Regions from separate parts of the Homo sapiens genome. Here regions 2 and 3 are each linked to region 1. The links come from fine-mapping of genetic effects on gene expression. A gene starts in region 1. Each other region holds a variant in brackets. All regions are shown on one strand. Distances are from middle to middle. Region 1 holds the start of MIRLET7IHG (MIRLET7I host gene). Region 2 overlaps PPM1H (protein phosphatase, Mg2+/Mn2+ dependent 1H). Region 3 holds the start of LOC124903103 (small nucleolar RNA U13).

What was found.
Region 2: its variant is fine-mapped to the expression of MIRLET7IHG in thyroid (GTEx, PIP 0.94).
Region 3: its variant is fine-mapped to the expression of MIRLET7IHG in anterior cingulate cortex (GTEx, PIP 0.97).

Annotation. Positions count from the first base shown.
Region 1 is chr12:62,597,685-62,605,866 of GRCh38, forward strand. It overlaps MIRLET7IHG (MIRLET7I host gene), which reads left to right and starts at 5,059. Exons shown (of 2, transcript NR_186001.1): 1 at 5,059-5,151. It overlaps MON2 (MON2 regulator of endosome-to-Golgi trafficking), which reads left to right. Exons shown (of 35, transcript NM_015026.3): 35 at 1-2,792. LINC01465 (long intergenic non-protein coding RNA 1465) reads right to left here and starts at 5,750. Exons shown (of 1, transcript NR_121682.1): 1 at 4,067-5,750. MIRLET7I (microRNA let-7i) reads left to right here and starts at 6,002; the gene lies at 6,002-6,085. RefSeq lists enhancers at 4,353-4,876, 4,877-5,398, 4,913-5,022, 5,103-5,292, 5,399-5,920 and 1 more and silencers at 5,373-5,682, 5,773-6,072.
Region 2 is chr12:62,713,058-62,721,239 of GRCh38, forward strand. It overlaps PPM1H (protein phosphatase, Mg2+/Mn2+ dependent 1H), which reads right to left. Exons shown (of 10, transcript NM_020700.2): 6 at 7,114-7,232. Among named protein-coding and RNA genes, the nearest start is that of MIRLET7I, 110 kb to the left of the region's middle. RefSeq lists an enhancer at 4,511-5,023. The variant C/T (reference allele first, on the strand shown) is at 3,993.
Region 3 is chr12:62,648,779-62,656,960 of GRCh38, forward strand. All of the region lies in intron 9 of PPM1H (protein phosphatase, Mg2+/Mn2+ dependent 1H), which reads right to left. It overlaps LOC124903103 (small nucleolar RNA U13), which reads left to right and starts at 2,397; the gene lies at 2,397-2,500. RefSeq lists enhancers at 4,591-5,212, 5,213-5,834, 7,077-7,697. The variant A/G (reference allele first, on the strand shown) is at 4,156.

The DNA.
Region 1 (8,182 bases):
AATCATGTCTTTTCTGTTATGTGGGTAGAGAGATTATATATCTTTTCTCAAAGTAAAGTATTTAAAACCTGTTTAAATGAGGGTTTTGGCTGGCGTGGTGGCCCACACCTGTAATCCCAGCACTTTGGGAAGCCAAGGTGGGAGTATCACTTGAGGCCAGGAGTTTGAGACTAGCCTAGACAACATAGCAAGATCCTATCTCTAGTTCAAAAAAATATTTTTAATTAGGGTTTTGGTTTTTTATGATTTTGGGGGGTGGGGGAGATATTTGTTTTTTTGAGGCAGACGTTTAAACTTTTAGATTTATCCCATCTTAATATTGATTTATATTGACACTGCCTACTTACAAGAATAATTTGAGGCAGCATATTGCCCATGTATTTCAACTATTTTCATTTTTCTGTTGCAAAGCAGTCTTTGATGGAAGACCCGGAATCTTATAGTTCTCATATCTGAGTCTTTCTGGAGTGTATTTGGTGTCTGTGTGATTGGTTCACCCAGAGGTCACCCAGAGGTCAATTGAAACCTTCCTAATTGTACTATGGTATTGATTCTATCCCCTCAAGTATGAAAAAATTAAATTTTCAGACCATTTTCAGTTGCTGCGAATGTAGTTACACTAAGTTTTATTTTAAACTAAAATTCAATAAACAGTGCAGCCAGGGAAGATCTGCTAAACCATGCCGTTATTTGGAAAATCATTGCAATATATTAACAACTGCTTCCTTCTATGATGTTTACTAGATGGAGAAAAATACTCCATACCTATATTGCAATTTTATTTTTATCTAGAAAAAGAAAATATTAGGCTTCAGACCCAACTGTGCAAATTTCATTTGCTTTCCATCTCTTACTACTACCTCTGTGTCATAATTTAACACGTAACATACAACTCCTGTCTCTTAAGGCAGCTACCATATGGTGTTTATGTCAGACTGGATATATTTATCTAATTTTGTGAAATTATTTTTTAGTTCCCAACACAATTCTTGAAAGTAATACCACTGTTGTTACTCTTTCTCCTTACAATTTTTATGTTGTTGAGATGTATCAGTTATGTATTATAATCATGAAATTGTATTGGCCTCAAACCCAAATTTTCTTTGTAGTCTAGGATAGATTTTTCATGAAAGCTATATAGTTATAACTGTGATTGTACAGATTGTTTATTTGTTTTACAGCTAACATTAAGCATGATTCCAGGTTTTTAATTATGTTCCAGCAACACTAGTGTTTCTTTATAACTTAAAATCATAACCACTTTGATAATTTACCTTTGGATCTGACCAGTGATTCATTTTTTTCTTGAATATACTTTGTGTTTGCTTTCTCATCCCCGTTAAGTCTGAAACATTATTGACACCCCACATCACTTACTCTGTTTAAAGACTTTACGAGTAGTGAGTCACATGTTTAGGATGATCACTTTGGGAAAAAAAAAATTATAGAGTAAAGGGGAAATGTTCTTGAGAGCTTTATTAAAACCATTAATATATAAAATGAAAAAATAATAAACAGAAGACACGAAGTGTCTCTCAATAGTTTAGAAAGAAAGATTTGGAACTTTAAGTAAAAATGCTAGGTCAAGTAAAAATCCTGATGTAGATTAGATTATCTTAATCTTATGAGCATTTTTTTTTAATTTGGTGAAGCTGTTTTGAAACTGCCTGTCCATATCAATGCCAGACTATCTCTCTACCTCTCAAAGAAAATAATTTGCATTAAAATTCCTTTTTTTGTTATGTAATGAAAGTATAAAACAAGAATTTGTACGTTACTCAGTGTGTACTGCAGTCAGATATAGTTAAAATAATTTTTCTGATGCGTAATTTTAACCACCATTTCTGGAGTACCTAGTATGTGCAGGCCAAGGCTTTGCCTATATTATTCCCTTTAATCCTCAAAGTAGCCTTGCAAAGAAGTTATTTTCATTTTACAGAAGAGTCAAGGATTAGGGGGTTGAAGTGAGCTGCCTAGAGTCACATACCTAAAGTCCAGGTGGATCACTATGTCTTGCTTTTTCAAAAGCAGTTCTTTCTACTACAGTACAATAGTTTCATGTTTTACAGTCCATTAAAATCCAAGACTTATAAAATAAACTAAAAATACTCTTGAGGCAATTACTATTTCTATGATGGGCACTGGGACAAATATACTTGAACATAACAAAGAACTAAAAATACTGTGAAAAAAAGATTTGTCTTAACGATGACCTTGAAAGTTGCATTGGGTTTTTATTATTGGTCCAGGTTTAAAACATTTTATCTATTTAAAACATATGTTGTGTGTTTTAAGAAGTTATGTTATAAATAACAGCATTGTGGTTAAGAGCCCAGAGTCTGGGGCCAGGCTTCTTAGATGCAAATCCCAACTCTGTTATTTTACTAAATGTGTGACCTTGGGCAAGTTAATTAACCTGTTTTGGTGTCCTCCTCTGTGAAATGGAGTTAATCGTGGTATTTAACAGAATTCAAAATGTAGTGTGTTCTAAAGCGCTGTGCCTGGAGCATCATCACCACTAGGTGGTTAGGGAAGTAAAACACATTTGGCACACATCATTCAAGAATGGCCAGAAAATCCATGTCTTCCCACAATAGGGACCAATTTTTTGCCTTTCACCAGACAACCACTGAATGTTAAGAATCTACTGTGTGCTAATAACTGTGTCCTTGCTGTATGACAGAAGCTATTTGGAGCGCTCTCAAGTGCTTATTACAGCTAGTCAAGGAAACCGCATATATAAAATAATACTGGATACAAGACTATACAATTAAATACTGGTGTATCACTAACAACTGTTTAGACCCTGTTTTTGCGTTAAGCATTGGGTTAGTCTCTGTCCTCATGGAGTTTTCAGTTTTATAGGGAATACAGACCTTTTAACAAGTATGTAAAGTACAGTAAAAGACAAGTACAGATTAAAATGAAATCATAAAATAGGAACCTTAGCCTAGTCTTCTGTGGTTCAGGTTAATAGTGCTGTTAGTAGTCAGAAGGAAGTTTTTTAAAGAAATGAAAAAGCTCAGTGGTTAAGATAGAAATTAAAGTTAGTCTTGATGGCTACCTAGATTTTGGATGAGTTCAAAGGATATACGGAGGGATTTCAGGCAAGATAATGTGAGCAAGGCATATCTGTGAAATAGAAAACAGTGCATTTTGGTGTATTGTGTGAAACAAGGTTGGTTGTGAAGGATTGGGTCCCTTCATAAAATTCCTTGAAAGCCAAGGAGAGTAGTTTAGATTTGAGATGGCAGGGTCTGGAGTGATTTAAGAATAAATTATAAAACCAAGGAAGATAAACTTGCAATCATAAGCAGGATAGGATATATACAGTATGGAAAGCTAAGCTAGAAAGCTGTTGCAATTTTCTTGCTATGAGGTGATGATAAAGAATTGATTAACGGTGGTCATATTCAGAAAGGATACTTAAGATTCCTGATATGCAGGGAGGGGGGAGAAAAAGTTGATGGTAACAGTACATTATATGTGGATGATGAGTATATTGGTGTTAGCACTGTTAAAAACATTATGGAAAGGAATGTAAGTGATAAAGTAGTATAATGACTAAATTTAGTTGGAAACTACTGCTGTAACAAATCTGTATACCATAGACCAAACAGGTGTTTAGTGGCCATTTAAAAATCTGTGCCATTATGGCAAAGGACATTTGCTTTGGTACAGAATAATCTGATCCACTGCGCAGTCAATGAGCAGTGAGGGTTGATTCCCATGGCAGTCCAATCTTTGCTTATCAAGGAAGGATGGTGTGAAGTTTCTACAGACTTTCTGGTAAGTGATTGATAGATGAGTTTATGGTGTGATTGAGTTTTTGCTTTGAGTTTATGCTTAGTGATTGATAGGTGAGTTTATGCTTTGTCAGGTAAAGCATTTAACTGCAAATGTATTATGTTTACACAAATATTCTTAATTGGAAATAGTTTCTGAATATGCACCTAAAAATGTTCTTATGAAATATGTCAGGCAGGCTGATTTTTAACTTGAAAACTTCTACTTTAAGAAATTGTTTGGGTCCCATCGCCTATACCATGTAGAATAGAAACAAAAAGCCAGTTATTTAATTTTTAATTTGCAATTAAACTCTTGGCCAAGAGGATCTGTTGTCCAAAATTACATCGTGATAGCTTAAGAAAAAAAAAATCTTACTTTGCCAGAAAGGGAATTATACAAGGATATCTTTATGAGTTGCTGCCAAATTTTGTTCTAGACCACGGCCCTCTGGCCTCCATGAAGGATCAAAGTCTGGGCAAAGACAATTCTAAGTTGTAGGTAAACATGCTTTTCATTTCCCTCCATTCCTTACTTTTGTCATAAGCAGTCTGGATTTTCAGGGGTAAAGGCTGATAGGGTTGCCAGATACAGTCATTAAAAATTGAGAATGTGCAGTTAAATTGGAATATCAGATAAACAATTTTAAAAATATATGTAACACACATATGCCAAAACACTGGTTATCTGAAATTCCAATTTAACTGGGCGTCCTGTATTTTATCTGACAAGCCCTAACTACTTCTTTAAAATAATTTGTTAACTTCCTACAAAAAATCTCTAAATGGGAGGAAAAAAAAAATCCCGTAAGTTGTCTGGGCCAAAAGCAGAAGTGGCTCCATGGCAGTCAGCCTTCTCCCTAACTTGGCTTAAAAAGAAAAAGCCAAAACCAGAAGTCCCAAAAGCTTGCGTTTAAAGCGGGCTGTGCCGCAGCTTTCCCGCCTGTTTTCTGCGGAATGTAGCACGGCAGCCACCCCGCGTGGGTGGGGCTCGTATGGTTGTGTCCTTGCTGGTTGGGAAAGGAGGTGCCGGAAACTTCAAACCACGGCCAGGGTACAACGTGTCCGCTTAGGCGGCGATATGCGCCGCCATCTTCTTTGCGGGCAAAGGCCGAAAAAAGTTTGGGACTCCACTCCCCCCCGCTGAGCCGATGGAGGGCATCGCCCGCTGCCTCAGCACTCTGGTGACGTGGAATCGGGGTCCCCTCTTTCAGGGCTGATTTCTGGTAGCACGCTGACGCCTGCCAAGGCAGGGAAAGGGGACGCCGCCTCTGTCCCGGATGTAAGATGGCGGCGCGGGGGGCGGCCTGGCGGGGCGGTCACGTGGTGAGGAGTAGCGCGCGAGCCTCCTTAAGTGATCTCTAAGGTTCGTCCGGACGCACAGGAGCAGCGGAGCGCGAGACGGGTCTTGTGTCCGCACGCGTCGAGTCGTCGCAGTCGCCACCCGGGCCATCGCCGGGCCCGGTTTCACTGTTAAGGGGTTTTCGTTTGTTCCGTTTTCGCCTCCTGTAGAGCTGAACGGGAATTCCCCGAAGGGTGCTGGGGAACGGGTGGCCTGGGGACTTCCCGGCTATGCCTTGGCTGCTGTTTGGCGGAGCCGGCGGCAGCCTCTGCGGGATGCCCGCCGGCGATTATCGGCGCCGAGAGCGGGCCGGCGGCGGGTTCGACAGCGCGGCGCGGGTGGGGGCCCGGGTACCGGACTCGGCCGCAGCCCAGCCCCCACCGGGGACTCGGAGCAGGGAGGGGCGCGAGCGGCGCAGCTCGGGACGTGGCGGCAGCTCCTAGCGGGCGAAGCGCGGGAGCGCTGCTCGCTGCCTCTCGGGGGCAGTCCAGAACCAGTTGGTGTCTGACTGCGCTTTTGCCGCCCATTTCCTGCTTTCGAGCGGCTGAGGCGACGCGCTCCCCTCGGGCAGTGGAGGGAGCGGCTCTCTCCGCAGGACACCGCCGCTTTTCTCTCTTCAGAGCGGTGGCTGACGTACAGAACGCCGGCTGTATCACCCGGGCGCCGGCGCCGCCTCTCATCCCCGTAGCTCTCGGGGCGCGCCGGGAGTAGCCGAGCCGCTGGGTGCTGGGCGGGGTCTCCGGGCGCGGCGCGGGGGGAAGGCAAAGGAAAAGAAGGGGCGGCGGGCCGACGTCGGCGGCGAGGAAGGACGGAGGAGCGCCGGAGCCGCTTTGCTGCCCTCCGCGTGGTCCCGTGCCTCCCCGACACCATGGCCCTGGCTGAGGTAGTAGTTTGTGCTGTTGGTCGGGTTGTGACATTGCCCGCTGTGGAGATAACTGCGCAAGCTACTGCCTTGCTAGTGCTGGTGATGCTCAGCGCCGCGGAGGACAATGGCTGGGAATCCCCTTTGTTTTCCGGGGCGCTGCCTGGGGACAGCCCGCGAAGCCTCGGCGCCCGGCCGGCGCGGCCACCACGGAAACCGTTAGTTTCACATTTTCCTAGAAGGAATTGAGGGGAGTGGGGTGGACCGCGATGCATTTTAAAGGTTGGGAAAGAGCTAAGCCATTGGATTCCTTTTCTTGAAGGAAGGAGTGGAATTGTGTAAGATAATTGATACAGATAACTTTTTCACCCTAAAAAATTCTAACACTTCTTTCAGCAGTTAAATGCCAAATTTAGTGTGTACCTGTTTTACTTCATTCTTTAGCTGTAGGTTGGAGTGGTGTGAGCGATCTGCAGAACTGGCATTAGAGGGGCAGAAGAAGTAGACCTGATAATTAAAGTTTATGCCTTAACATTTTAGATCTGGTTTCTGATATGCTCTCTTAGTAAATCTGAGTGTGTCTTTAAAAACGTAAACCCAAAGCAATTTAAAGTTTCTCTTTAAACTTTGCAACTCGCGAATGAGAAGATTGAAATTATTTGTAGGTAATTGCACTATTCCGATTTTTTAATGTATGAGGCAAACAAATAAATTCTATGTACAGTGTGCTGTGAATGGTTTTGTTTTTTGTTTTTTCTTTTTAGTTTAACCTTGGGGCTCAGATTCTGCTGGTGTGGTGGGTTGGTTTTTTGGTTTTTATGGCCTTTGATTCTAATGTTATGTGGTACTTACATCTTTGAGGTTTTGTATGGGAGAAGAGGACTAGGAATTGAAAGTGGTTTCTAGATTTGAGTTTAAAATCTACTAACACTCATTTTGATTCCTGAGTGGCCACTACTCCTAATAGGAAAATACCTTTGCATAGAGAAAAAAGGTAGTTTGGATAACTAATGAAAATACTCAGTGCTCTAATACCCTGAAGTCTGCGTGGAAAACAAGATACTTGTATTTTTATTTTATTTTCACTGAGGGAAGTAAGTGGTCAGTTTTAGTACTTTTCGTTGAAAACTGATCTGTATTTGTACAGAATAAGTAGTTTTGAATATAATGTAATCGCAGTTTTCTATGGTTTTCTGATGCTCAGTTGAAAAACAAATAAGGCAGTTCTTTAAACCAACCAAACCCTTCAGCAGGAGTTTGATGCTTTTATCATTCAAAAGTGATCTAATATATGTGCCTTGATTGGGTTTGGTTTAGCCTTGAGAATAACCTTACTTAATCTGATCTCATCAGGATGGAGCCGCCTCATTGTGGGAAGGGCGGTGAAGAACCTTATCTTGAATCTTAAGATGCAGAAAATGCTTGAATGTTGGCTCTTGAAGTTTGCTTTTCTTGATAGCAACGCAGAGTAAATTCAGGGCTTTGTTAAGTGCTTGTTTTCTTAAATAATGAAAACCTCTGCGGTGCTGTGTCAAATCTTGGTTTATGGAGAAACTAATCATAACATGCTAATTTCATTATGATTTTATTTTCCAAAACACTTCATTCAACCAACCGAGGTAATCTTCCAACCCACTACACTCTAACATTTTTATGGAGAATCAACGGTTGTTAATCTGCACCCCAAAGTATAACAAATTCTGCTGGTAATTTAAACTTTAAGCGGATAAGCACACCAGAAATGCTCAATGTCCTATACAGATAAACTATTCATACTTTATATCTTGTGTTTTTAAAGTAAATTTTATCCACAACTACATATTGCCCAAATAGTAGTAACATTTTTGAGTTATTGGATGTAAAGGTACTTTGAGAGGTTAACTGTTTCCTAAGTTACAAGAGAAAATACTGCCACCAGCTGACTTGTTTTAATCCCATAGCTATATTTCTGCTCTAATCTCCAGTTTTAAAAATGATCTGCTAATTACATTTCTCTACACACCAACTGAAAATTACCAACTGAACATTTTCCTTGTTGACAGTTTCCCACAAGATGAATTTGATTTATCAAAAATACAGCTTTCTGAACTTAGTATTATTGACATTTACTTGGTGCAGTTAACTTTTTTGTTAAAGGTCTGTTGTCAAGCATTTAAGTAATTTGTAGTTGTAAAAAGCCACTGGTGGAAAGTA
Region 2 (8,182 bases), 120 kb after region 1:
GCTGTATCTATATTTGTAAAACCCAACCTGGCAGCTCCAGACCATGTGTGGAACTATCTCCAGTGAGTTTCTCTCTCCAGAAAGCGTTTGGATGGTTGGTGAGAAGCCTGATGCTGTGGGGCTGTGCTTCTCCACCCCAAGCCAAACTCCAGGCTATAGATGGAGAATAAAGGTCACCCCAAACACAGTGGAAAGGGTTGGAAGCCAAGCTGCTTTTAAATCATATTCTCAGGGCCTGAATTACTCCCCAAGAAATCAAAGGAAAAGCAAGAGGGACAAGAGTGCCAGCAGCTGGTCCTCATCCAGGAGATAGGGGAGAGAGCTGAAAGAAGGCTGCTGGGCTGCTTGAGGAGGGGAGGTGCGCTACTGACTAGGGCTGATGAAATGGGTCTCCCTTTAGTCTGGCCAGCTGGATGCAGCTTCTTGGTGGCCCAAAAGTGACTACTGGCTATGAAGTGAGTTGTTCCTAAGCACAATGACTGATGCCCCTGAGGATCAGGAAAGGGGTGTGAAGCCCACCCCTCTGCTGACTCAGAGTCTGGCATCAGAGGCACCAGAGGCCGGTGTGGCTACACCATTCCCTGTCCACAGTTATCAGTACCCATCCCACCTTTTAAAAAACTCTTTGGGGCCAGGTTTGGTGGCTCATCCCTGTAATCCCAGCGCTTTGGGAGGCTGAGGCAGGAGGACTGCTTGAGCCCAGGAGTTTGAGACCAGTCTAGGCAACATGGCAAAACCCTGTCTCTACAAAATACACAAAAATTAGCAGGGTGTGGTGTCACACACCTGTAGTACCAGCTACTCAAGAGGCTGAGGTGGGAGATCACTTGAGCCCGGGAGGTTGAGGCTGCAGTGAGCCATGGTCATGTGACCGCCTTCCAGCCTGAGTGACAGAGTGAGACCCTGTCTTTAAAAAAAACAAAAAAAACAAACCAAAACAAAAAACTCTTTGCTGTTGGGATGCTGAGTTACAGAGAGCTCCTTGCACCACACCATTCCCAACTATACCCACGCTCTTCTACTATGTAGACCACAGCACCATGCCGTAGAACTTTCTGTGATGATGGAGACGTTCTATATCTGCATGGTCCAATTCAGCAGCCACTAGCCACATGTGGCTACTGAGCAACTGAGATGTGGCTAGGGCAACTCGGGAAATAAATTTTTAATTTTATGTAATTTAGCTAATTTAAATGGCCACATGTGGCTAGTGGCTACTGTGCTCGAGAGCACAGAGAATGGAAATTTCTCTTTGCCTCAATAAAAGTAGAAAGTGCTGAAAGGAGAAAATGGGCTAACTCCACTCTGCTCCCAGTGGAAAATCCCCTATTTGCTCATAGTTTTAAGGGAAACAGAGGAGGGAAAATTATCGTGATGTATCATCAAGTTAGAATTATAAAAAGTTAGGGGCTCTAAGGGACAAAATAAAACACTGCCATCTCTGGAATCTTTCTAATGGGATCTGTCTTTTCCAGCAGCTCTAAAAGCAGAGCAAAGCCTACCCCCTGCCGCCACCACACTTAGAGGTTCGCAGCAATGGTCAGAGGAAGTATTTACGAGAGACCTAGGCCAGGATCTGCCCAAGGCCCCAGAAGCTTGGCAGAGCAAAGTACACAAGGTGCCTATCGCCAAAACAGGACTCTCTTTACCAAGTCAAGCATGTGATCTCAAGTTACCAGTCCAGCCTGCCCCTGAAATGAGACCATCATAACGTTAGAAAGGCTTTGCTTAAAGGAAGAATTCTGGTATACTTTGCTCATGACCAGAACCATCTGGAAGCAATCTAGCATTCACAAGATGGACTTTTCTTCTTTGGCCCTTGCTCTCTCTACAAATCCCATCAGCCCAGGAACAGCTGCTGGAGAATCTGGCCTGGCGCCAGGGGTGAAGTTTCAGCCCCCTCCCACACACATGTCCCTCTGGGTCCCTGGCTTGCTTGCCACCCCAGGTGGCTGGACATGGCACGAAGTACGCTGATCCTACTTGAGAAAGCGGAATAGCCAGTGGTCACAGGAGCAGAGACTTGGTGCCACAAAGCGAGCTGTGAGAAACTGCTGTTTCAACTCGGTAACATAGACACTTGCCAGTAAATTATGGCCTGAGACATCTCAGAGGGCTGCGGGTCGGGATACACTGCTCTCAAGGCAACACAATGCCAGCTACAGTGTGCATCCTGCAACAGCAGCTCAACACAAAGGGATGGGGAGGATGGGCCCCAGCTTGGGGATTCTGGCACCGGGACCAATGACACCATGCGCAGGAGGTGAGAGCCAAGGGGGTGATAGGGAGAGCAAGGGAAGACTCCATCAGGAATGAACTCAGCACTGGGGGCACTGCGAAGAGAATGGCTTTGTAAATCTAGCCACTGTGCAAACTATCTGAGGAGAGGGGGAAGGGGAGGTGGGGGAGCCAGGGAAGAGGCCAACTGCATTATGAAGGTCCTGGTGACAATAACCTTTTGTCCTCAAAACAATTTGAGCCTGCCAAGCTGCTCCACAGTCTCCGTGAAAGCATGAGGGTGGGAAAAAAAAGGATCCCCATTAAGAGGCAACAGACTCATCCTTAATTATGAGACAAGCCTTCCCAGAGCTGACATCCTCTCCCACACTTCCTCCTGCAGCAGACACACCACTGAGTGCCGGCGTGGTGCTCCTCTAATGAGAGCAGGCAATTTTTCTAAGAACTGGTCCTTTTGGGATCTTCCCCAGAACCCCCACCCCCAAATGACACAAGCTCTTAGTGAGAAGTGTGAAGCATCAGTTTAATTTGAGCAATGGTCTACAGGGTCAGACTGGGGACTAGAAAAGGGACGGCCTCAGCAGTCCTAAAATGCTTCATTCCATCCTCTTGACCCTATAGGATCGTCAAGACACCAGTCCTGGTGGACAGAGGGCCCCTGCTTAAATGTACACCGAAGCTCGAAACTGAATGATCATGTCTAATTATCCTAAAGAAAAGCTGACTGGCACACTGTATTAGAAAGAACCCCAACAAAAAGTCAGAAACCTGGATTCTAGTCCTTATTCTGACACATTTGCATCAGCTGTGTGCAAGCTGTGTCAGAAGCTGAGCAAACCACCTAATACCTCTAGGCCTCAATTTGCTCACCTGCAAAATGGGAGTAAGGGGGGGTCATTCCACATTTGGCAGTTTAGCACCTTAGTAAGCACCACACACTCTGAAGTTACGCTGCCTGGATTCATATCCCACTTTCTCCTCTTACGAGTTATGTAACCTTGAGCAACTTAGCTCTGTGCCTCAGTTTCCTCATCTGTAAAATGTACCTAGTTCACAGGACTGTTTTAAGCGTTAGGTATGAGGAATTAGGTAAAGCTCTCATCATAGTGTCTGGCCCTTAGCTCTTCCAATAATTGTCAGCCCCATTACCATGATGATTAGTGGAAGATGAGGAAGAAAAAAAATTCCACAACTAGGCATTTACTACAAGGATTAAACAGCTTTGCAGTAGGTGGACTTTTTACTTGTTAGAAGGTTTCAGAAGAATGGGTTCCAGGCTAGAGTGCAGTGGCATAACCATGGCTTGCTGCAGTCTCAACCTCCCAGGCCCAAGCAATCCTTCCACCTCAGCCTCCTGAGGAGCTGAGACCATAGGCATATGCCACCATGCCTGGCTAATTTAAAAAAAATTTGTTATAGAGATGGGGTCTCCTTATGTTGCCCAGGCTGGTCTTGAACTCCTGGGCTTAAGTGATCCTCCCATCTCGGCCTCTCAAAGTGCTAGGATTATGGGCATCAGCCACCATGCCCAGCCTCCCATCTTTAAGTCCTAAAAAATAACTGCTAGATCTAAGGCTTTCTGCTAGAGGGTAAAAACATTTTAAAAAGGAATTCATTAAAGTTGGGGGGAGTGCTTTACGTAGGCAGTAGTCTAAATTGAATGGATGATTGATTTACTGATTCATTTATTTATTTAGAGATGAGGTCTTGCTCTGTTGCCCAGGCTGGAATGCAGTGGCATGATTCTGGCTCAC[C/T]GCACCCTCGAATTCCTGGACTCAACTGATCCTACCACCTATGCCTCCCCAAATGCTGGGATTATAGGTATGAGCCACTGTGCTTGGCCTAAACTGGTTTTCAATTTCTTAGGTTCTTCTGACAAAGATGTAAAGGGCTTTTCTTCAACTTAAGTCCTATTTTCAAATCAAAAGTTGGAACAGGTAGGAAATGCACAAAGATGCACATAAATCTGCTTGTAGCCAAGGTTGTGAGCCAACAGCCGTTTGGGGAATTAGGCTGAAAACAAATCAGCAAATCACATCTGACTAAAGCCATTCTCAGTTGTGGCTCCTTCATTATTCATTACCTTCTGTGAAGTTCTATACAATTAAAAATAGCCCATTTGTGGACTGTTTATCTGCTTAGGACCATGCTAATGCAGAGAGAGAGAGAGAGAGAGAGAGAAAGAGAAGGAAAATGAGAAAGAGAACAAGAGCAAGTGTGCACGCAAGAGTGAAAGAAAGTAACTGTGTGCATATAAAGTTGGATATAATCTAGTCCCTGAACTTAGCTACATTTTTTTTTTAATTATAAAACCAGGACAATCTTTAGCCATTTTCTAAATATTAAAATGTACAAGCCACTAAAAACAAAAACAAAAAACAAAAACAAACAAAACACAAAAGCAGAGCTTCCAGGGTTTGGAGAAAGAAACATAAAAAAACTAACCTCATCACACATTCTACTTACAAAGAGAGGTTTGAGTGGAACCTTTACAGCCTTTGAAAGCATCTGGCCCATTAAAGTGACGATGCCTATTATCTCATTAGGAGTGCTTTTCAAAGTTAGTAACAATGAGCTGTTCTTCTCCCCCTTTGAATCAATACTAAGCATCTGCAACAAAGATACTTTTCCTTATTACAAAATCCTAGGCAGATATTTATCATTTGTTTTGACTACTTTAGATCTAATTTGCCTTTCTGGCATAGAAAGAACATAGGTACAGCCTTGCCTCAAGCTCAATCTGCTTTAAATGTGCACATCAACTGTCTGCAACATTGATCTCCCCACTTCTGTCAATTATACCTCCTTTATTCCTTTCAGCCAATACATAATTGCTGCCTGTTTACTATGTGTCAGGCACAGGACTAGGCACTGGTGTCCCCCTCAAGGAGCCTACAGACTTGTTAAAGAGACATATTTAAATAGGCAACTGGTGCTGTCAATGACTTAACCTCTTACCTTTATCCCTTGGCCTAAATCATTTAGTTTCTTATTCATTTTCGTTCCATGTTTTCTGCTTCTATCCCTCTATTTAGGCCTCGAGACCTCACATAAATGTTGTTATGATAGTTTTTCTCTGAGTACCTGAATCTGCTTTCTCTCCTAGTCAATCTCATTCCAACTTCTCTTAGAATGGCCCTCCAAAAACATCACTTTCATTTATTTCTCTTTCTCAGGAATATATAAGAGCACCCCATAGCCTCCCAGTAAATCTAAACTTGTCTGGCATCCCGTTTTCCCTATCATGTTCCCTCAGTACCAGCCCCATCTGTCTCCCATAGTCTCTCCTCTTCTATTTGGTCATGTTCCTTGCTGTCTTTTAGATCTACTCTTTTTATGTGTTTACAACCATGTGGGTTCCTAACGTTCCATCTTTCCAAACTCTACAGTTCCCAGACTAAACCCCATGATGCTTTGCTGAATTACACTAGCTCTCACATTAAACTTTTCCTGTACAAGTGCTGATTTTGCTAACTAAATAAAAATGGATTCACAAGAAAACCCAGTCAGGGTTGGTATGATGACCCTGGGGCATCAAAACTCCAGAACTCAGAGCTGCAAAGGTGAACCCTTTCTGATAAATCCATTCATATTTTAGAGCAGGGGTAAATTCTTAGGCTTGAGAACCAGTCTGTGATGCAACTACTTAATTGCCCTGTTGCAGTGTGAAGGCAGTCACAGATCAAACAAACAAATGGGTGTAGCTATATTTTTAAAAATTATTTCTGGAAGTAGATGGGGTAGGCAGAATTTGACTCTTAGGTCATAGTTTGCTAACCTTGTTGTAGAGGAAGAAGAGTGGATACAGGTGAGAAACTTCTCTTGGTTGGCAAAGGACAACCAGAAGCCCCTTGGCCTCTTATCTTCTCTGGGTAGCTCAACTTGTTCCCTGAAGACAGTATGTACCCTGGCAGTAGATCCCTGGCCAAGTCATCACCATGGGAATTTGGGCTGTGACCATCTGCTATTGCTATTTTGGTCAATGGGGAAGAGATAAGAAAATCTACTTAATCTACTTCTTTGACTCTTTTGGAGATATGGGGAAGAAAGGGTCCATGGTCTCATTCTCATATGGTCTCCAGACTGGCAGGAGGCTCGCTCGTTAGGACCCCAGGGCACAAGAGCAAATCTTCACCCACACAGTGCCAGGCACTGCGCTCTCATTTAATCCTTACATTAACCCTATAGTGTATAAGTACTTATCATATCTATCAGTCAGATAAAAGAAATAGCTGAGGTCTTAGTCAACATTAGCCACTGCTCCATCCTAGAAATGTTCTTGATGCTTACACAGTTGTGTTTTCGGAATACGACAACCCCCCTGACAAGAGTTCTTATTTCAATTTGAATGTGATATTAATGAGAATAGCTCATTAACTTTAGCCTTGATAATGAATCTTCAAAGGATATATCTTTTTATCACTTTATCCATGGAAAAATGGGCTCTAGAGGTTAAGCAATTTAACCAACTTTGCTCATTTAGAAGAATCAGAGTCAGGATTCAAACCCAAGTCAGTCTGGCTCAATAAACCTTTGGCCATTCTACCTCTTTAATAACCCTGACCTAAACACATAAAGCTTCATGTGTTTTTAAAGCCCTCAAATATTTGCTACATGTGAAGTGAGAAATCAGGTCAGTTTCCTGGGGTCCAATATCCCCAAGGAGGGCCTCGAAGAAGCAGAGAGGCAAACCAAGGCTCGTGATTTGGTCCTAAGCAAACATAGCAGAGGCAGGTGTACCCCCTTGTCTTTTACCACAAACCCTGGTCTCTGGCTGTGCTTCCTGATCCAAACTGTGTAACTGGCTGTTTATGGTGGTGATGCTTCCTTCACACACACTGTGTGGTTCCGAGGCAGAGGAAGGCATGTTCTTACCAGCCTGTCATATTAAAGTCCCTGTAGAGCATCTTCTTTCCAAGCTCCTTTCTCTGTACTCTCCTTGGAAACTCCAAATGTGTGAACTCATTTCCCAGCAAGTGAGGCTGCATGAATGCCTAATAGCAAAAAGAAAAAGAAAAAACACACACATACACGTATTTAGAGAAACAAAATAAGAATCAAGGATGTTTTGCAAATTGAGACAGGCCATATTTTAAAAACAAGAAAATTGCCTCATATTTTAAGTAAATAGATTTCAGAGTTTAAACACTAATAGAAGACGAGCACATAAAAATGAATTTACAAAGGAATGTAACTTTTTCATTTGATCTGATACATTAATTGTAACCAAATGCATAGCTGAAGGGATCAGGAAAAAAGACTGAGCTTCTCTCTAAAGAATGGCTTTTTAGTTTTCCAAATGGTATACTGGTGAGATACGGGGTGAGAAAGCTCCCTGACGTGGTCTTTTCCACACTCATCTCACTTACATCCTTGGTTATCACGGCCTTGCCTTTGAAACCTGTGTGTGAGCTTCCATGTAAACACAATGGCTTGAGTGCTGGTTGGGGCTGGATGCAGCAGACAGGAACTTTCTGTTGGACTCCCTCCAGTTTGCTCTGCAGTCATTTGATCGTGTCATTCGAAGACTATTCTGGAGCAGATGGCTTCTCCCCCTCCCCCAAATCTCTGTTCACACTACAAAAGTCTTGAGCAAACAGCCACTTAGGGAATTGCTTTGAAACAACAGTCTCATTGTCACATTCAAAATTCAAATCTAGCAATCCGAGAGACGCAATGCTCACGTACTAACTTCTCTACTCAGAGGCCACATGCTGCAAGCAGGCCTGCACTAGAACTTCCCCACATGAAGCTGTCTACCTGCTTCTGAGCAGCATGGTGGAATGGATCTTCTTTCTTTTCTGGCAGGGAAAAGAGTGGGCAGAGCAAATCACAGCCTGGCAGTGTAGGAAAGCAAGGGATCTCTGCCACCAGGCAGATGGTCAGGTCCTCAGTGTATGGGTCATAGGCATCTCTTACAGCTACTTTGCTAGGACCCAATGCC
Region 3 (8,182 bases), 51 kb after region 1:
TCTTTTCCCAAAATGTAGGACACCTAATGTGAGATTATTGTTTACATGGTAGTGGGATAAGGCACTAAATACATTAGATAATGTCTTACATTATTCACCTCCTCAGTCCTCTTTTGATGTTTTTGATTGATTACATTGAGGGGAGTCTCAGTTTGCTGCTAGTATAGCTCAAAGAGCTGCTCAAGCTCAGAGCTTTCCATGACAAATGGTATCTAGCTTAAAAAGTACATGGGAAAAATCAGAACTTTTGTTTTCAATATATTTAGTTTTAGAGTTATATTGCTTTTGTGACAAAGAATAGTCATTTTCTATTTATGGTAAAAATCATTTAAAATAAATTTTTTAAAAAAGTGAGTTAAGGAAAAATGTTAAAAATAATACAACCTGGCATAAGCATATAGCAAGAATGTGAAGTTTTTTGGTTTTTTTTTTTAATTTATTTAATTTTTTTTTTTGTAAATGACTGATAAGCCTTGGTGTGAGTGAGCTGCTTACTTGTCAGCGTCACCCTCTCCTCTTGACCAATGTAAGTTCAGCAAGGGATCCCTTAAGAATTTGAAAATAAGATTGCTGAGATTTAAACTGTAAGCTTAAGGAGAAAGAATGACACTGTAAGCTGATGGGAAAGTATTAACATCTAGGAGAAAGACTAACTTGGGAAGTGATTTGGGTGGGTATGGGCCTGGGTTAGCCCTGAGGCATAAAAAAATGAGACAAAACATTGGCAGGTGTCTATCCAAACACTGACCAGAGCAGAGGGAGTCATAGTTGACAGCCTTCAAAGGAACTTAGTTCCACTGGCAGGGTCATATTTGGTGTGGGATGGACTATTTTCTTAGTCTATACCATTAAGCATATGATTCAGCTTTATTCTGATTTCGTGTTCACCAAAGAACCTCCTGATTATGATCTGCCTCCCTGTGTAGGCCTGCCTGCAGGAAAGAATGAGCTAGTCGTTTTTACTTTAAGAATATCCATCAGTTATATTTCTTTGCTTAAATGTCAAGTGGCATTTTGCTTTACAGATCAATCTTGTGAGCTTGGTTAAGGTGAGACCAACTCTGATAATGAATCTCTTTTCTGTATCTTGATTAAATCAGTTTCTGAACCTGAAAAGCTAAGAGCCAGACTGGTAAATCATCAAGATAATAAATGTCACCGTATAAGTCCTCTTGGAAGCCAGCCTGTGGGCCTTTTACAAGGGACCACCCTGATATTGCTAGTGACCTTTCTCTACTTGGAATGTTTCAGTAGTCTCGCCTTCAGAGCTGTGAGTTATGGAATTCAGAACCCCAGAAGCCTCTCCATTTCTTTTGCTAAAATTCACAGACTTTCATGTTGAGAACTGCATCATTGTTACATTATTTAAGAACAAGTCCTCTAACAAATGATCCCAGGATTGTGAAGATTCCAAGTTGTTCAGTCTTTGAGGATCAAGTCTATTTGTACAGCCCAGATAGCAGACAGAAGTGTAACATACACTACAGCAGAAAGGATATTATAGTCAATACAAAATAAATACCTTTCCTTCTAGAGGATGGGGTAGTAGGTGAATAATTTTTTCTATCTGTATTGAGAGAATTATCATCTTTGAGGCAGAAATCTTTAAGTTATTCTTGAGGGAAGATGCAAACAGTTCGTCCTGAGGTTCTCCTCCTCTTGAGATCAGGAAATAAAGGCCTCCAAAGAGATCTTTGGCTGAAGAGCTAAGTAAATATCTGAAAATCGACATATTGCAGCTCATACACTATAGTCAGAAAAGCCTCTCAGCTGCTCACCTCATTCTCACACTGCTATGAAGAACTACCTGAGACTGGGTAATTTATAAGCAAAAGAGGTTTAATTGTCTCACAGTTCCGTATGGCTGGGAAAGTCTTAGGAAACTTAAAATCATGCCGGATGGTGAAGGTGAAGCGAGGCATGTCTTACATGGCAGCGGGAGACAGTGAGTGAAGGGGGGAAATGCCACACTTTTAAACCATCAGATCTCGTAAGAACTCACTCACTCACTATCGTAAGAACAGCATGGGGGAACTCGGTCCCCATGATCTAATTGCCTCCCACCAGGTCCCTCTCCTGACATGTAGGGATTACAATTCGACATAAGATTTGGGTGGGGACACAGAGCCAAACCATATCACCCCAGCTTACTCTTAGTTTTATATTAAATTGTATATGAGACATAAACACATGGGGAAAGGCCACCAGCCACACCAGAGTGATGTTTATTATCCTGGTGATTGATCAGTCTGCACCTGAGCTTTTTAGGTTCAGAAACCTGGCTAAGTTTATTTGCCTATCAGGCCTGAACACACCTTAACCCAGGTATGAGCTGACTAGACATAGAAAATTATGGTATGCTATGAGAAAATATGCCTGACAATAAAAGATACTCAATCCTTTTGTAGTTCATAAGCTTGATGTTTGAGTTTTCACACTTACGTGTGAAATGTGCCTCCCTTAAACCTTGTTACTACGTCAGCACATTACCCATGAGACATGGAAAAAGAGATAGACAGACACTCAAAGATGTCAAAAAACAGATACAGGAACTCAAAACACAACTCTTTATGGCTATTTTAAGCTCCAAACAGGCCTCAACAGGTCCTGCAGTCATGGAGAAATGACTGGCTTTATTAGAGTCATGAAAGATGAACAAGAGACCACCCTGATGCTGCTATTACTAGTGACTTTGCATATTTTTTAAATGGTCAAAATTAGCTTGGTATTTTTAAAAAGCAAGGATTAGGTCACCTAGAAAAGATGGCTACCCAGGAAACTCATTTCCCTGAGGGCTGTAGGTAATTAAGGTTTCATTCTTCAATATGGTTATTTCCTATTCCAAGATAACTTCCTTTGAGATTGGTTCTCTCTTCACCATCCACTCTGTTTTCCCTTAGGTGCTTAACTTCCTGAGGGAAAATCCACTCTTGCTTTCTCAATTTATTACTTCCCATTTTCTTCCTTTGTCTCTTACCAGTAGGCCCAATACTCTACTAATCTGTCCTCTTAAAGCTTGATCCAAGGGTGGCTTCTCAATACTTATTCTGCTTAACCCTTTGTGTTCAGCACAAATACTGCTGATTATTTTATCCTTAAAAATCTCTGTTCTTGAATTCTCCTTTCTTTCTGGGGCTCCCATGCCATAACCCACTCCAAGTTCTCCTGTGACTGGGCTTCCATGACACACAGCACAAGTCCTTCTCTCTGATGCTCCTTCTTAATTTCCTTTGTAGGCCCTAACTAAGACTTAGGAAGAACTCAATGATCATTAATTTCTTTTTACTTCCAAAGTGGAACATCCCCAGCTATCATCCTTAGTTAATGGTATCCTGGTCTCTTAGGCAAGAAATCATAGTGTTTTTCAATGCCACTTTCACACCCTGATATTGTTCAATTATGAAATCCACAGGGCAGTGTAGGACTTCTAAACTTTGCATTATTATTATTCAGAGACAGGGCCTCGCTCTGTCATCCAGGCTGGAGTGCAGTGGCATAATCATAGCTCACTGTAACCTTGAAGTCTTGGGGTCAAGTGATCCTCTCACCTCAGCTTCCCAAGTAGCTAGGACTAAGGCATATTCCACCATGCCCAGCTAATAAACTTTGCATTATTTTAAGTGTATTTTATTAGTAGCACATGGCTAATTAAAACAAAATCCATATAGTCACTAAGATGATAATTTTGTTTATTGCAAAAACTGGTAGACCTGTACCTATATTTTGCAGTCATATATACACACACATATGAAAACTTATTTTGTGTTTTTAATTTATTATGTGCTTCTTTCCTTCTTTCTTGTTTTCTGTCAGGTGGATAGCTTTAATATTCCCCTCCCCCAACTGGATTGGAAGTGTTATTTCTATTATCAGTTATGTTAAATTTTTAGTATATAAGTTAATCGTATTTCTGTCCTCCTGAAAATAAAAGGACCTTAGAATGCCTTCTTTCATTTTCCATGTTACTGCCTATTATTTTAATTCACCTTTTTTTGAGCCTGCCTTAATCATTATCATTTACAATCTACACTTACATAAATAAACCAACATACTAACTTCTTTGCTTTTTATGAAACTACTCCTTGCTTCTGGATTTAATTTCCTTCCATTGAATTACATTTTTAGTAATTTTTTTAACAATGGTCTGTGAGTGGT[A/G]AGCTCACCTAGTCTTTGGATTAAGAAAATCTTTATTTTTACCTTTGATTTTGGCTGATAGCTTTATTGTTATGCAATTCTAGATTGTCTGTTATTTTCCCTCAGCAGTTTGAAGACATTATTCTGCTTACTTCTGACTTCTACTCTTTTTGAGAAGTCTGTCTTTTATCATTCCTTTATAGGTAAATGGCTTTTGTCATTGATAGCTTTTCAAGTTTTTGTGTTTTTGTTGCTGATATGAAGTACCACTAAGACATAACAAAAAGGAGCTTTTTACTTATCATGGTAAGAAATTAGTTTTACTCTTTCAAACTGAAAACTTCTGAAAAATTCTCAGCCATCAACTTTTTGGATATTGCCTCTCCTCTATTTTGTAGATATTCTCCATAAACTCTTATTAGATCTTATTTTACCTTGCAGATTTCAACTTCTCTGCGATATCTTTCAATTCACTAACTCCCTTTAGCAGTTTACTATCCATTTAGTGAATTACTTTGTTTCAATGACAGTGTTTCACCGTTGTGAATTTCTCTTTGGTTCTTGTCCAAAGAACCAAATTGACCTCTTCTGACCTTATGATTCTATTTGCACAAGTTTAACTCTCTTCTAAACTTGTTCTGTTACACCCAGGTTTTCTTTGAGGGCCCGGAGGGAAGGCTCTATTGTATTTGGTTATTCTTTTTCATGGTGAGTGTGAAGAAGAATAAGTGCTTCTTCAGAAGGGGTTGTTCACATGTGCCCTGGGTTATCCAAAGAGATTTAAAATTTGCCTTTACTGAGGGGCAGTATGGATTTCTGTAGTGCTAGAACATGTTCATTTCAGCTTTTTGGCTTAGGATCCCCATACCACAGGAGTAGTATTGTTAGAGTAGGCAGTTAGGTAGACATGATCAGGGCAGGGGAGGGCCCTCCCCCAGGAATGTCTGGCGACCATCAGGTGATAGTCAGGCCATTGTTAAACCCTCTAAAATAACAATTGGTCACAGCTGGCACCAGGGAAATGCAGTCTCCCAATAGAAAACACCTGGCCAGGTGCAGTGGCTTACGCTTGTAATCCTAGCACTCTGGGAGGTCAAGGCGGGTGGATTAACTCGGGCCCAGGAGTTAGACACCAGCCTAGGCAATGTGGTGAATCCTGTCTCTACAAAAAAATACAAAAATTAGCTGGGCACATGCCTGTCGTCCCAGCTACTCGGGAGGCTGAGGTGGGAAGATCTCTAGAGCCTGGGAAGCGAGGCTGTGCCACTGCACTCCAATCTGGGTGACAGAGAGAGACTCTTTCTCAAAAAAAAAAAAAAAAAAAAAAAAGCAACACCTGAAGCAGGTGATCAGCCTCCTGATAAGGTCTCAGGAGATAGGCGAGTGGGCACACGCACTAGGAGGCAAAATGGCCGAGTTTAACTATCATATGGCCTTCCTCCAGAAACACTCAACAGATAAGGGAAAAACAAATGAGCATGCGTACTTCAGTAAGCACACTGCATATGCAGCCCCTCCCAACTGTTGGCAGGCCACTGTGCATGCAGACAGCCCACCCCAAGGGAAGAATCAGGGGAGAAGAAACGCAAATCATGCCAATGTATAAAACCCCAAGTCAAGGCCGGACAAGGCACTTGGATCTCTCAAGTTGGCCGCTTGGCCGCTTGGTCCTCTTCCAAATGTACTTTACTTCCCTTCGTTCCTCCTCTAAAACTTGCCTCGGTCTCTCACTCTGCCTTTTGTCCCTGGGCTGAATTCTTTCCTCCAAGGCAGCAAGAACTGAGTTGCTGCAGACCTGTATGGATTCGCCGCTGCTAACCATATGAGGTTTAACTTCACACTTTTCCTGTGTGGTAAACCTACCCAGCCATTTCCTCCTCCTCATAAAACCTCAGTCTTGTCAGGCAGCTGCCCTGATCCATGTACCCATGTGCTTCAGAAGCGTAAGGACAGCCCCGCCTGAGGGAGAAGTTTAGGGAAGATTCCTAGGACCTGTTCTTCCTACCCTGTTCCCAGGAGGTCGGATTCCTTCACACGGCTTCTCTCCGCCGGCTTCTCCAGTGCATGTCTATCCCTCCTTGTCCAAGAGCAGTGTGCGTGGACAACTGAGCCGTTAGATGCTGCACTCCATAGGTGACAGTACGAATGCTCTAGGACCAGCTTCCTGACATTCCCTTCATGCCACAGGAGACCAGCATTGCAGTGAAACTCAGCAACAGCATTAGGGGAAGATGAAGTCACTCGCAGGAGCTTTCCTCATAGATTCATTAACTCAACACAACCCCGGGGACTCAGCTCTTGGGAGAAGGCCTTTTGTGTCAGCTAGCTACCATATTGGGCCAGGCTGGTGGCCATTTCAGAGCTCATTTGCATCCATCTTCGGAGCCACCTTGCCATATGAAATGCATGAAATCCTTTGCTAGGCTGCTTTATGTCAAGACTGGGGCAAGAACAAACAAACAACTTTCTCTGAAGGAAAAGAACTGCTTCTCCTGCCCCCATTGTATTCTCCAATTTCTACCTTACATCAGGGATCCCTGGGTTGGTGACAGTGAAAGTGCTTAAGGTGGTATTAAAACAGGAAGGCTTTATTGGTTTTGTTATTGAGGCTGAACACAAGGGCATTTAGGTGCCATCAAAGGAGAACTGTAGAAAGTAGTAGAAGAAAATTTGAGTCAAAACATACATACTGTATAAGCATAAAATATCCAAGAGAGCAGCCAAGAAGAATATGGTACAGCTGGAGACAGCCAATGGGTAGTGGATTCTGTTACACACCAACTGGGACTGTGTGGCAGCCGGAGCCCGATGCTTCTGGAAGCTGTGTGTGGAGCAGCCCTAGTGCCGTCACTGAATGCTGGGCCAGGCTGCATTAGACAACTGCGGAGGAGTTTGAAATGCCCACTCCTAATGAAGAGTCTCCCCAGGAGACATGTTTTGAATTTTGAGAACATTTTTCTTCTCTAGCTGAAGCTTTCAATATTTATCAGCAAAGCTCTGCTGAAAGCAATGGCTGCTGGGCAGGGATCAGACTTGGCAAACTCCACAGGGCTCAGGCTCTGAGCGGGAGGGAGCAGAGAAAGGACAGCAGGGGAGGCATGGAAAACAAAAAGGAAGAGGGGCTGAAGAGCGATGGGAAGGCCAAAGCTCTTTTCATAACCACTGACTCTTAAAGTCAGGCGGAAGGAGGCCATAAATCCTCGATTGTCCTCTTGTCCTTGCAGATTCTGTTGCTGTCCTTAGTTCTTTTCCTTCCTAATGGACCAGAAAAGGGCTCTGGGTGTAAGCGTGGCTTGCCCAGGTTCCAATCCTGGCTTTCCCACCATCCAGATGGGTGGCTCTGGAAGAAGTTTTTAGCCTCTTGGAGCCCCTCTTTCCTTACTCAATAATAGTGCAGACCTCCAAGGCTCCTGTAACAGCCATGTGATCTTTCCATAAAGCATTCAGCACAGTGCCTGGCACACAATCGGAGGTCAATAAGTGTTAGTTATGTTCCTTATTAGATATTAAATGCCTTTCTCCTCCCCAGGAGTTTTGTCATAAGTCATCTACGTCTTATAGTCTGTTTTCTGAATCTTTAGCATCTGAATCAGCACAACAGTGTCAAAAATAAGTCAATTTCAGGCTGCAGGCTATCACCGTATCTTAAAGTTCTTAATAGTTCTTGTTGGGTGGGAACTTCAATTTGCCATTTGGATGGTACAGACAGGGTCTTATAAGAGGGTGAGTAGTGGCAGGAACTGGGGAATTAATGGCTTCCAAATATTTGCATATAAAAGGCAGGCTCCATCTGCTGACACCCGCAGTAATACAGTGTGAGGGGAACAGGAGGAGGAATCCCCTTTGCATTCTGAGCAGGCCTCAGAAATTTAAGAGGTAGAAAAGCTCTCCCAGCTTTGGAATGTTGGCAGGGGTCTATGGCAGTGGCGTCTTGGTGGGTGGAGGGTCAGGGGTGGCTTAGAATAGGGAATGGCCTTTGTTGTGCCCAGAACTAGGCAACTCATCCTGGGAAGAGGCACACATCTTAGATTCACTGCTGAGAGCTGGT